Homo sapiens: one gene and its partner. The protein of the gene in region 1 purifies or fractionates together with the protein of each later gene. This does not show direct contact. Each region holds a gene or a part of one and is shown in the gene's direction. Other genes may lie near its edges.

Region 1 (7,031 bases):
CCACTGGTTATAATGGCTAAAAGGTTGGATTTTTGAATCAAGTGACCTGTGTTGCTATATGATCCTATCCTCGTCTTTTAACTGGGAACAACAAAACATTTTTCATAGAGATGTTATAAAGATTAGAGATTATTTGGCACCGTGTGTGACAGATTATAAAGGTTCGATGAATGAAATCTGGCAAATTTTTAGATATATGTATTCAACGAATTTTTTGGTGGAACACAGATAACATAATCCTGAGAATTAACTCTTTGTACAGACCTCAAGATGAGCAAAGCTCTATCACTTTCAGAACCATGACCACTCTGGTGATTTTGATTTCAGAATCTTCTTTCATTCTGGTAAACCCCCTTTGCCCCACCAAATATTGTATGAAATACATTTTTTTTTTTTTTTGAGACAGAGTCACGCTCACGTTGTTGCCCAGGATGGAGTGCAGTGGCGGAATCTTGGCTCACCGTACCCTCCGCCTCCCGGATTTCAAGCAATTCTCCTGCCTCGGCCTCCCAAGTAGCTGAGATTACAGGTGCCCGCCATCGTGCCTGTCTAATTTTTTTGTATTTTTAGTAGAGACGGGGTTTCACCGTGTTGGCCAGGCTGATCTCGAACTCCTGACCTCAGGTAATCCACCTGCCTCGGCCTCCCAAAGTACTGGGATTACAGGCATGAGCCACCACGCCTGGCCTATAAAATACATTTTTGACACAAAACAAATTTAAATTAGTTGTACTGAAAAAAAAAAAATGATGACATTTTGGGGCACTCCAAAACTGATGTTGGGATATGTCGACTTAGATATTCAGTGTAGTACATCCTGGCATTGCTCTTATTTCACATCATTCATATGATAAGACTTTTTAAAAATTTAAATTAGCTCTAATACAAACTTAGTCTCTTTTGGAAAGATAATACGTGATCAATTATCCGTGTAGAGTGGATATGAAACAGATATTTAAATGTTATAAAGAAATGTTGAAGGGAAAACCTCATTGCAGGTAACCACAGTCATCCCACAGGCCTTGTGGTTCTGATACCCAGCTTGATAGAGCCTAATGCCTGTTGCCCACTGACAATACTAAATCAGGCTTTAGAACTAGGGGGTTATGCCTGGCACAGTGGCTCACACCTGTATGTAATCCAGCACTTTGGGAGGCTGAGGCAGGTGGATCACGACATCAGGAGTTCAAGACCATCCTGGCTAAAACGGTGAAACCCCATCCCTACTAAAAATACAAAAAAGTTAGCCGGGCGTGTGACACGCGCCTGTAATCCCAGCTACTTGGGAGGCTGAGGCAGGAGAATTGCTTGAACCCAGGAGGCAGAGAGATCTCGCCACTCCACTCCAGCCTGGGTGACAGAGTGAGACTGTCTCACAAAAAAAAAAAAAAAAAAAAAAAAAAAAAAGAACTAGGGGATTATGCTCCAGTCCCAGATTCTGTTTAAAGCCCGGTTAGGGGCCAGGCGCGGTTGCTCACACCTGTAATCCCAACACTTTGGAACGCTGAGGCAGGTGGATCACTTGAGGCCAGGAGTTTGAGCCCAGCCTGGCCAAATGGCAAAACCTTGTCTGTACTAAAAATACAAAAATTAGCTGGACTTTATGGCACATGCCTGTAATCCCAGCTACCCGGGTGGCTGAGACAGGAGAATTGCATGAGCCTGAGGGGTGGAGGTTGCAGCGATCCAAGATCGCGCCACTGCACTCCAGCCTGAGCAACAGAATGAGACTCTCCAAAAAAGAAAAAAAAAAGTCCAAGTTAGGGCCAGACACAATGGCTCACACCTGTAATCCCAACACTTTGGGAGGCTGAGATGGGAGGATTGCTTAAGCCCAGAAATTCCATACCAGCTTAGCCAACATGGCAAGACCCTGTCTCTACAAAAATTAGCTGGACATGATGGTGTGCACCTATAGTCCCAGCTACTTGGGAGGCTGAGTCAGGATGATCGCCTGAGCCCAGGAGTTAAAGGCTGCAGTGAGCCATGATCTCCAGCCTGGGCAATAAAGCTAGACCATGTGTCTATAAAAATAAAAAATAAAGGCCGGGCAAGGTGGCCTGTACCTATAATCCCAGCACTTTGGGAGGCCAAGGCAGGCGGATCACCTGAGGTCAGGAGTTCAAGACCAGCCTGGCCAACATGGTGAAACCCCGTCTCTACTAAAAATATAAAAATTAGCTCGGCGTGGTGGCAGGCACCTGTAGTCCCAGCTACTCAGGAGGCTGAGGCAGAAGAATCACTTGAAGTCGGGAGGTGGAGGTTGCAGTGAGCCGAGATCGCGCCATTGTACTCCAGCCTGGGGGACAAGAGTGAGACCCCATCTCAAAATAAATAAATAAATAAATATTTTAAAAAATAAATGAAAAATAAAAGTGTCCAAATTAGAAGTAAAAACTTGAAGTAGCCCCATTTTTTAAAAGGCATATTGTCCCACTTACCCTACTATCTGCCTCAGGCACAGCAGCCACCCACTCTGGAAAATAGTTTTGTCAGTTGCTTAAAAAAAACTAAACTTGTAGCTACCATACAGCCCAACAATTACACACCTGGGTGTTTATCCTGAGAAATGAAGATGTAACGTTCACACAGAAATTTGTCCACAAATGTTCATCTCAGCTTTATTCATGTCACCAAAAATTAGAACACCCCCAATGTCCCTCAGTAGTTACATGGTTAAGCAAATTGTGGTACATGATACCTTGGAGTGCTACTCAGCTATAACAAGAAAAAAGCTATTGCTGTACACAGCAACTTGGATGAATCTCCGGAGAATTCGGCTGAATAAAAAAAGCCAATTCCAAAAGGCTACATACCAGATGATTATATTGATATAACATTCTTGAAATGACCGAATTTGAGAAGTAGAGAACAGATTAGTGATTGCTAGGGCTTACGGAGTACAGGGGAGGTAGGGTGGGAGGAAGTGGACAGGGCTATAAAAGGGCAATGTTAGTGATCCTGTGCTTATGGGAATGTCCCCTATCTTGACTAGCACTGTCAGTATTCTGGTTGTGCTGGTGTGCTACAGTTTGCAAGATGTTCCTGTTGGGGAGACTGGGTAAAGAGTATGTGGGCCCTGGCATGGTGGCTCATGCCTATATCCCAACTCTTCGGGAGGGCCAGGCAGAGGATCACTTGGGGCCAGGAGTTCAAGACCAGCCTAGGCAACACAGTGAGACCCCTATCTCTACAAAAATAAATGTAAAAAAACTAACTGGGCATGGTGGCGCATGCCTGTAGTCCTAGCTACTGGGGAAGCTGAGATGGGAGGATCGCTTGAGTCCAGAAGGTTGAGGCTGCAGTGAGCTGTGATCATGCCACTGCACAATCAGTGACAGAGCAAAACTCTCTCTCTTTTTTTTTTTTTTTTAGCTTGAGTTTCACTTTGTCACCCAGGGTGGTATACAGTGGCACAGTCTTAGCTCACTGCAACCTTTACCTCCCAAGTTCAAGCCATTCTCCTGCCTCAGCCTCCCTAGTAGCTGGGATTACAGGCACACGCCACCACACCCTGCTAATTCGTTTTTTTGTATTTTTAGTAGGGACGGGGTTTCACCATGTTGGCTGGGCTGGTCTTGAATCCCTGATCTCAGGTGATTTCCCAACCTCAGCCTCCCAAAGTGCTGGGATTACAGGTGAGAAGAGTATGTGGAGTCTCAGTATTATTTTCTTCTTTTTGTTTTGTTTTGTTTCTTTGAAACAGCGTCTCACTCTGTCACCCAGGCTGGAGTGCAGTGGCGCAATCTTGGCTCACTGCAATCTCCGTCTCCCAGGGTCAAGCGATTCTCCTGCCTCTGCCTCCCGAGTAGCTGGGATTACAGACATGTGCCACCACACCGGGCTAATTTTTGTATCTTTAGTAGAGACGGAGTTTCACCATGTTGGCCAGGCTGGTCTTGAACTCCTGACCTCAAGTGATTCGTCTGTCTTGGCCTCCCAAAGTACTGGGATACAGGTGTGAGCCACTGCACCTGGCCTCAGTATTATTTTCTATAAATGCATATGAATCTATAATTATTAAAAAATAAAAAGGTTGGCCAGGCACGGTGGCTCACGCCTGTAATCCTAGCAGTTTGGGAGGCCAAGGCAGGCAGATCACCTGAGGTTGGGAGTTTGAGACTACCCTGACCAACATAGACAAACCACATCTCTACTAAAAATACAAAATTAGCCGGGCCTGGTAGCACATGCCTGTAATCCCAGCTACTCGGGAGACTGAGGCAGGAGAATTGCTTGAACCGGGGAGGCGGAGGTTGTGGTGAGCCAAGATTGCACCATTGCACTCCAGCCTGGGCAACAAGAGCAAAACTCAGTCTCAAAGATAAATAAATAAATAAATAGTTTAATTTTTTAAAAAAGCATTTAACTATGGTTATATGCAGTAACATATGAATCTCAGAAGCATTATGTTGAGTGAAAGAAGCTAGACATGAGACTACGTACCGTATGATGCCATTTATATGAATTCTGTAAAAGGCAGACTCGTGATGATAGCTGATCAGTTGCTAAGGGTAGGAAAAGGGGACTTATGTTTGCCATCAAGGGCACAAAAGACCTTTTTGGATGGAAATACTCTGTTGTAATTGTGGTAGGATTACATTGCTTTGTCAAAACTCATTATACCCTTAAAATTAGTGAATTTTATTATAATGAATTATACCTTATTAAATCTCACAGAAAAAAGACCAAAAAAAAAATGGGACATTAAGCAAGCAAAGTCCACTGGAGTTGATACCTTCAGGAATCTTTCCTCTCACTTCCTCCCAAATACCACAAGGTGGCATTAGATGTTCATGTCAGTTTACAAAATGGGGTTCCCGGTGAAAAACATTTGTAGAAATGGCTTTCCTTTTGTTGATGATTTTAGCCAGCTTGGTGATAAGGTAAAACATAGCTTTCATCTTAACTTTCATTTTCTTCATATATTTTCTTCTTTTCTACTGTTAGCTGATGTTTGTATTTTCAGCTTCAGTTAATACGGGACACTTTACCAAGAAATAATGTTACTGGTAGACGGTCTTGACCACAAGTCGTCAAGGTTTTTAGCATGTTGAACAAAAAATTGGACAAAACACACAAGCAAAGCAACAGAAGACGAAAGCATAGATTTATTGAAATGAAAGTACACTCCATAGAGTAGGAGTGGGATTGAGCAAGTGGTTCAAGAGCCCCAGCTGCACAGTCTTCTGGGATTAAAGTACCCTGTACGGGTTTCCTATTAGTTACACCCTATGCAAATGAAGACTTGGCCCGAGACGAATCAGAGGCTGTAGTGAAGACTCCCTGTCTCTAAACCCTGTTCTCCTGCCTCAGTAATAAACACCACTGCATCTTTTTGTAATTAGTCAATTAACCTTCCGAGTTTTTACTTTTCTATATCAGTTTATTTTAAAAATTAGCAGTCCTGGAGTATAGTCTTTTCTTTCTTTTTTTCTTTTTTATTTTGTATTTTTGAAAAAGAGTCTCACTCTGTTGCCCAGGCTAGAGTGCAGTGGCATGATCTTGGCTCACTGCAGCCTCAACCTCTCGGGCCCAAGCAGTCCTCCCACTTCTGCCTCCTGAGACGCACACTACGACACCCAGCTAATTTTTTTATTTTTTGTAGAGATGGGGTTTTGCCATGTTTCCCAGACTGCTCTCAAACTCATGGGCTCAAGCAATTCTCTCACTTCTGCCTCCCAAAGTGCTGAGACTGCAGGCATGAGCCACCACCCTCAGACCACACCCCACACTCCTTCCCCTTAATTCTGGTTTGTCAAGCCTCCACTTAGATGACATGTGAGGAAGCCTTCTCTGACTCTTCACTCATTGAAGTCTCTGCTGTATTCATCCAGAGCTCCCTGTACTTTCCCAACAGTATCGCTCTTTATATTCATCGTGAATGTTTAATTTAACTCTTGTTCACTACAAAGTAAGTTCTGTGAAGATGAAGGTTTTTGTGTATTAAGTGCTGTGTCACTAGCCCCTAATACCATGTCTGATATATTAGCATATGATAGGTGCTTAATACTTGTTGGATATTGAATGCCTGCCTTTTCTAAGAAGATTATGTGTCAGTAATGTGTGAGTTTATATCCAGCGTTACATCTGTTGTGCCAGCAAAATGGAATTATCTTGTATTTCTAATTTTTTTTTCCTTTTTGTGAACTTTAAAAAATTTCAGGCCTCCCGAGGAGCCCAGACAGCTGCAGCCACAGCTCCCCGTATCAAGAAATTTGCCATCTATCGATGGGACCCAGACAAGGCTGGAGACAAACCTCATATGCAGACTTATGAAGTTGACCTTAATAAGTGAGTATCTCTGTGAAAGCCAGCTATTGAAGGAGAGTTCTTGATTTGATTTAGGGACATGCTTTTCACATCCTTGGAAGGCTTAAAAATCTGAGATCATCCGATGGCTCTGTTTTTAAAACAAGAATGAGCTTGGGCCGGGCACGGTGGCTCACGCCTATAATCCCAGCACTTTGGGAGGCTCAGGCGGGCAGATCATCTGAGGTTGGGAGTTCAAGACCAATGTGGCCAACATGGTGAAACTCCCCTCTCTACTAAAAATACAGAAATTAGCTGGGTATAGTGGCTCATGCCTGTAATCCCAGCCACTCAGGAGGCTGGGGCACAAAAATTGCTTGAACCCAGGAGGCAGAGGTTGCAGTGAGCTGAGATCATGCCATTGCACTCCAGCCTGGGCAACAGAGTGAGACTCTGTCTCCAAAAAAAAAAAAAAAATGAGGTTGTTACCTGATTCAGAAGAATAATACCAAAATAATTCCCAAATGAAAGTATGACAAATTTCTAGAAATACTGGTATAATTAACTTTATGCACAGTATTTAAAGTCATTTAATATATTACCATTTTTTTAATGCTGAATGTATTGATTATATCTTATACATCTGGACCTGTGTTTTCTATAATAATAACAGAACCGCCAGAAACTTGCCTTGAATGGACAAGGTAGGGATGTGGTTAAAATGTTAAAAATTGGACTGGCGTGTTAGTTTTCTATTTCTGTCAGAGCAAATTACCACA
Region 2 (6,419 bases), on another chromosome or scaffold:
GTATGTATATTCATAAAATAGAATGTTTTTCTGAAACTCACTTACCAACCTCTTACTTGAAGTATAAGTTTCTTTGCCTTTTTTTTAGGCACCTTTCTTGGATGTTCTCAACACCATGATGGACACTACACTTCCTCTGACATTAGAAGAATTAGAAGAATGGGGGAATCCTTCATCTGATGAAAAACACAAGAACTACATAAAACGTTACTGTCCCTATCAAAATATTAAACCTCAGGTAGTGAAAGACAATTGTGTTAGATTATCCTGAATTTACACAGAAGATAATAAAAAAAAAACTTATCCAAGCTGAAGCAAAAATAGGAGCTTTAGAGATGTTTCTACTTATGATGCCCAAATATCTTCAGCACCATCTCTGCTCATGCTCCATGTTTAATACCTCAGGGGAATAGACTTATCATGCCTTAATTACTAAATTAGCTAAGGTCCTTTAGTCAAGAAAAGGCTATTCCAGATAACAAGTAGTCTACTACTGTAATACTGAGGCGCTCTCAAGATAGCAAGTGAGAAAAAGCATAGAGCACTTACAGGGAAAAATTGGAGGTAATTATTTTTCATAGTCTCTATAGTGGCAAGGGACCATAAGAAATAATGTAAACTCTTCGTGCATGTATTTTCTTTCAGCATTATCCTTCAATTCACATAACGGCATATGAAAACGATGAACGGGTACCTCTGAAAGGAATTGTAAGTTATACTGAGAAACTCAAGGAAGCCATCGCGGAGCATGCTAAGGACACAGGTGAAGGTAGGAGACCCCCTAGAAGCAGGGAACATGGCCAAACAGACTACTACCCACAGCACACTGCTCAGAGGAATATATTTCAGGCTGTAGCCAAATCATCTGCCCAGGATTTAGGGCAAACAATTATTTTGCTATGTTGACTCCCCAGTTAAAGTGTACGTAACTACATGTCTATACATACACTGCCTCACCTCTTTTTCAAAGGACAGTATTAAAATAGATAGGCAGGACACAAAGGAAACAGGAAATTTAAGAATCAGATATAACTTGGAGATGCACTGCCATACAATTATTAATTCATTTAACAATATTTATTGAGCCGTTATTCTTGGGAATCTCTAAAAGACAGATTCTGAGATTTTTGTTTTGGGCCATCAGTGCCCAAACTGTTTAGCTGCATGAATTTCCTCTAGCTAGCTGTTTCAGCTTTATGAGATAAGAATCCCTCCCTTTTGCCTTGAAACTACATGCCATATCAGTCTCCCTGTATTCATCTCCATTTGTCACCCCCATCCATTGCTGTAGTTGGTGTTTCCAGGGCATAAGACTCTCAGATTCCACAGGGCAGGTTGATGATCTCCTGGGTTTCAACCTTGTCCGTGTGGCACCATATAGTCTTTTCCATACGGCCTCTTCCTGCTTTCGCTGTGTCAGAAGTTTGTCTTCTGTTGCTTGTCCCCTCCCATCTTTTTGTTGATGATGGTGGTTTTTGCTTTTTATTCCTTTACTATTATTTGAACTGAGTACTCAAAGAAGAGGGGAGGAATGGGTCTCGATCTTCCAAAGAAGATCCCATACAATCTTCTAATTGTTCTACATGTTAACTCTTCCAGGCTATCAGACCCCTAATATTATTCTAGATATTCAGCCTGGAGGCAATCATGTAATTGAGGATTCTCACAAAAAGGTATGTTATCAAGGCCCTCTCAGTGGACAGATTCCCGAACTAGATACATGTTGTTTTCACATTTTCAGTGGTTGCAGCAGGTTTATGACAAAGCCACTTCACAAATGTCCTATCTATGGGTGAGACCCAGGAGGGGAGGGAGGGACACTGTGTCAATCAAGAGAAATGTCTCTCTCTTGTACTTGATACGTGAGCTCTGTTAAAGAAAATAATTTAATCTTAATTGTTGGAAGCCTTCTGCCTCTCTCTCGAATGAAAGTATTCTTGCCATAAATTGCTGACTTCACGGTTAGGTAAAGATGGATAGATAAAGAGAAGCTTAAACAGTGGCATTTTACTACAAAGGCCTTCTATTTAATTTTTTTAATGTGTTTCTTTTAGATTACAGCCCAAATTAAATTCCTGTACGAGGAACTTGGACTTGACAGCACCAGTGTTTTCGAGGATCTTAAGAAATACCTGAAATTCTGAAACACTGCATTCAACTGGGAATTGGAAACACACTGAAATATTTCATAGTCTTACTTCCAATTGAGTTAGCAAAAAAAAAATTAATAACTTGAGACTTTTAAGTTATTAATTTTTTAAAATGTGCTTCTCCATCTAAATTTTGCTTAGTCTACATCTCACTTGCTTATACTATTCTCTCCATTGATGCACATGCCCATTAACCTAGGAAAGTAATTTTCAAATCATGCTCCTTAGAAGGATGTGGAGTAGAGGGAAGGGAAGGATTGGTGATAGCAGAGCTCCAGGCCTCCCTTCCAGTCAGAACAGTTGAGCAGTTTACAAATTAGTGTCCTGCCTCTTTGCTAGCAAATGCTTTTAGACACTGTGGCAGTGAGTCATCCTCTAATTTCTATGACTGCATTTTAAGGGAAAAGATAAAATTCTTCCCCTTAAAATTCGTTAAAGTTTTTGAATAATCTGGGGTCCTAATGTGTTCTGGTCATCCCTGATTGATGCTATCTGAATAAAGTTATAAGCTCCTATAAGCCATAATTTACTTTTAAACATTTTATTTTTTTCAAAACATTTGAGAACCTTTCTTAAAGCAGTTACATTCAAGCTACAGAAATATCGAAGAATTAATGATTGTTCACCAAGCAGCATGCTGTACATGAAGCTATTACAAATGCTTACAATCCCACTGAAATGCCAGTGTCTTCATCTCTTCATAAAGGTGCCTAACACGAGGTATACAGTATGTTCAGTACACTGGAATAGCATGCTCGATTGGAAACAAAGCATCTATCTCTGAAAGCTGTTTGGCGATGAAGGAGATTCTTCGTGTTGTGTTCAAAGATGAGTCCCTCTCCCTTGTCCAGAAAAATGCCACTTGTATCAACTTTACTGCCTTTGTCGGCAGAATTGGTACTTAACCTTATTCTCATTTTAGCGGGAAGGCCCGAAATCATATTATGTAGATTTAACAGTGTTGATTCTCCAAAATTCAGAACCACGATAAAGATTCTGTCGATGCCATCCAGCTCTCTTGTGTACACAACATAGTGGCTGTCATTCCTCAAATGGCAAAACCAGCCCCTGTTGAGGAGTAGCTCATTGGCATGAAGTAGACTTAAATCTTGATATAACTTCAAAGCCGATCTGGGCTGAGTCTTTTGGACCTATTTTTTTAAAAAAGTATTTACGTAAGTGTTTGATTCTAAGAATTGTTTGTAAGTATTTTTAATATATTGTAAGGAGTTATTTACCCAAAACACTTGCTCCAATTTTGCCCCTTATAATTGCCAAATTGTAAGCATCAATAAGTAGGTAAGAACAATTTATATAAAAACTGATAGAAATGACAAATTCGGGGTTTCGGCTTGTCTGGGAGTCAATAAGTACGCACAGTGCTCTGCTACATTGTAGAGTTTCTGTAGAGATCAAATTTGACTCCACTTTAGGAGTCCCAAAGCAAATGTCCATGTCTAAGATGAATATTTAACTTGCATAGTCATTCTGTGCTATATTGTAACTGCCAGATGGCCAGAAAGAAGGCAACAGTGGACTCAGACTTCTGAGGAATTTGGGTTTGTTCCCCTTTGTAGACTAATGTGTAGGTTGCTGTTGTGCGAAGATCGTGTAACTTTAGCAGACATGTATTTCTTGCACAGCTAATAGAAGACAAAGTTGAAAAAAAGGATGCAAAATAAAAAGCTGCCTAAGGTGAAAGTTAGAAATTGTAGACTTTTTTTTACCATAATAGTATGTGTTCATTAAAGATGATTTGGGTTTATTTTACAGCTATATAAAACATAATTTGATGATGTACTTCTAACCTTTCAAGCATTTTCTGTTATTGACTATATAATATAGCCTCCATAAATGTTTTTAATGACAATATTCTGTTGAACGGTTGTACCATACTCAGCCATGCCCTTTCATTTTGACGATAGTGTTTCTAATATTTTGTATTTTTATTCCCCTCCCCCCATTTTTGTATTACTTAAGATAGATTATCAGAAAGACAGTTACTTTGTCAAAGAGTATGGGCACTTGATACATAATGCCAAATTATTCTTCATAAGAGCTGTTGCCAAATCAGTGATAATGTTCATTTAATTGTATTCTTGCCAGCCATGTTTACTGGGGTGATAGTTGTTATTGTGGTTGTTATTGTTCTTTAGGGGTAGGTTCCCAATATGTGGTCTTTAAATAATTATCTAATGGTGTTTAAAAAGATGTTTATTCTGTTTGTCAGGTACAAAGATATTTATGATACATGTATGACTTGTCTAAGTTATTAACATTTTCTCTAGCCTTAGGTAATGCATGAAAGCACATGTTTCAGTGCCACTCACATAAGAAGTGCCCGGTAAGTGTTAGCTATTATTGTCTACTTGAGTTACTACTTTCTAAAAGTATGTTGAAGTCTTTTTCTGTAATTGCAGATTTGTTGATTTTGCATTTGAGTATTTTCTATATTTTGAAGCTGTTAGATGCGTAGTCATGATTTTTGGTGGAATGTTTTATCAATTTTTGAAAATTGCCTTTGTCTCATATAATGCTTTTCATATTGAACTATATTTTGTCTGCTATTAAATACTTCCAAGCCTGATTTTTGTAATTTTATTTTTTATTCAATTACAAGAATACATACTATAAAAAGGTTTTCTTCAACACCTTTCCATAGCTTCACAGTTCCCCTCAGAGACAGGCACTATATGTTCTTTTGTTTTTAATGTATCATATGTTTGCATAGGCACAGAATGTATCATTTCATATGTTTATATATTTTTCTTTACACAGTTGGTGATATGTTACCATTCTATACTTTATTGAATACCTGTTTGAAATGGTCTCATATCAATGTATATAGAACTGTCATTTTTAAAAGCTGCATACTGGGCCCATAGTTGATAGAACTGGTTTTCTGTTGATAAAATATTTAAATCATTTCTTGTGTCTTCTATTAAAAACAAATTTTGCAGGCCAGGCAAGGTGGCTCAGGCCCGTAATCCTAGCACTTTGGGAGGCAAGGCAGACAGATCACCAGAGGTCAGGAGTTCAAGACCAGCCTGGCCAACATGGTGAAACACCATCTCTACTAAAAAATACAGAAATTACCCGGGCATAATGACGTGCACCTGTAATCCCAGCTACTTGGGAGGCTGCAGCAGGAGAATCACTTGAACCCAGGAAGCAGAGGCTGCAGTGTGCCGAGATCACGCCACTGCACTCGAGCATGGGTGACGGAGCAAGACTGTCTCAAAAAAAAAAAAAAACAGTGTTGAGATCCTTTAAGTATTATTGTGCACATGTGCAAATATTTCTAAGTATTAGGAATGGAATTATTAGGTCAAAAGATAACTTCATTTTTTGTGTTTATAGCTATAGCTGGGTTGCAAGCTTTCTATTATTTGCTTGCTATATCTTCATTTTAATTCTTTGTGTTTTATGTTAGTGTTTCTTATGTCTGTTTTTGTTATCTGAGTGGTTTTATCTTTTAATAGGCTAATTTAACCCATTCATATTTGTAATTATTGTATTATTTAGACATAATTCGGAAGCCCTATTTTATTTGTAGTTATACTATTGTTTAGGGTTTTTTTCTATTAAGCTTTTTGTTGGATTGACTGTATAATTTTTTTCTTCTAGTATTCTTTGAAAATTTGAAAATTGTTATATTTTATGTCTAGTGTTCTTTGAAAATAATTCTTTGAAAATTATTTTTATGTCCTAATTTTACCATTAAAATTATGACCACTTGAAAATAATGTTTCTCAATGTCTAGAACAATGCTGGCCAATAGAACTTTCTGTAATGCTGGAAATGTTCTATATCAGAGCCATCCAATATGGCAGCTAATGAGCACTTGAAGTGTTGCTATGACATGGGAACTGAATTTTTTTTTTTTTTTTGACACAATCTCCCTCTGTTGCCCAAGCTGGAGTGCAGTGGCATGATCATGGCTCACTGCAGCCTCAACATCCTGGGCTCAAGTGATCCTCCCACCTCAGCCTCCTGAGTAGTTGGGACTACAGGTGTGTGCCACTATGCCCAGCTAATTTTTTTCTTAAGAGATAGATAGGGTCTTACTATGTTGCCTAGGCTGGTCTCAAACTCCTAGGATCAAGTGATCCTCCAGTCTTGGCCTCCCAAAGTGCTGGGATTATAGGCGTGAGCCACCATACCCAGCAGGAACTAAATGTTTAATTCTATTTAATGTAATAGTCACAGTGGTTAATGGCTACTGAACAGCTCAAATCTAGAGTTACTCTTTTTCCTGTGCAAAACAAA

Evidence for each region.
Region 2: the proteins of SDHB (region 1) and PREPL purify together in Homo sapiens (affinity purification with mass spectrometry; 2 studies listed by BioGRID and IntAct, with this or other methods). This does not show direct contact.

Annotation. Positions count from the first base shown.
Region 1 is NC_000001.11:17,044,024-17,051,054, reverse strand, and holds part of SDHB (succinate dehydrogenase [ubiquinone] iron-sulfur subunit, mitochondrial isoform 1 precursor), read left to right. Parts: intron 1-6,166; coding exon 6,167-6,294; intron 6,295-7,031. UniProt on the Homo sapiens protein: Iron-sulfur protein (IP) subunit of the succinate dehydrogenase complex (mitochondrial respiratory chain complex II), responsible for transferring electrons from succinate to ubiquinone (coenzyme Q).
Region 2 is NC_000002.12:44,317,081-44,323,499, reverse strand, and holds the end of PREPL (prolyl endopeptidase-like), read left to right. Parts: intron 1-88; coding exon 89-238; intron 239-645; coding exon 646-769; intron 770-1,062; exon of another isoform or gene 1,063-1,599; coding exon 1,600-1,673; exon of another isoform or gene 1,674-2,054; coding exon 2,055-2,144; 3' UTR 2,145-2,860; coding exon of another isoform or gene 2,861-3,301; 3' UTR 3,302-5,304; coding exon of another isoform or gene 5,305-5,382; 3' UTR 5,383-5,893; downstream 5,894-6,419. Other genes in the region: amino acid transporter heavy chain SLC3A1, read right to left, coding at 2,861-3,301. UniProt on the Homo sapiens protein: Serine peptidase whose precise substrate specificity remains unclear. Does not cleave peptides after a arginine or lysine residue. Regulates trans-Golgi network morphology and sorting by regulating the membrane binding of the AP-1 complex.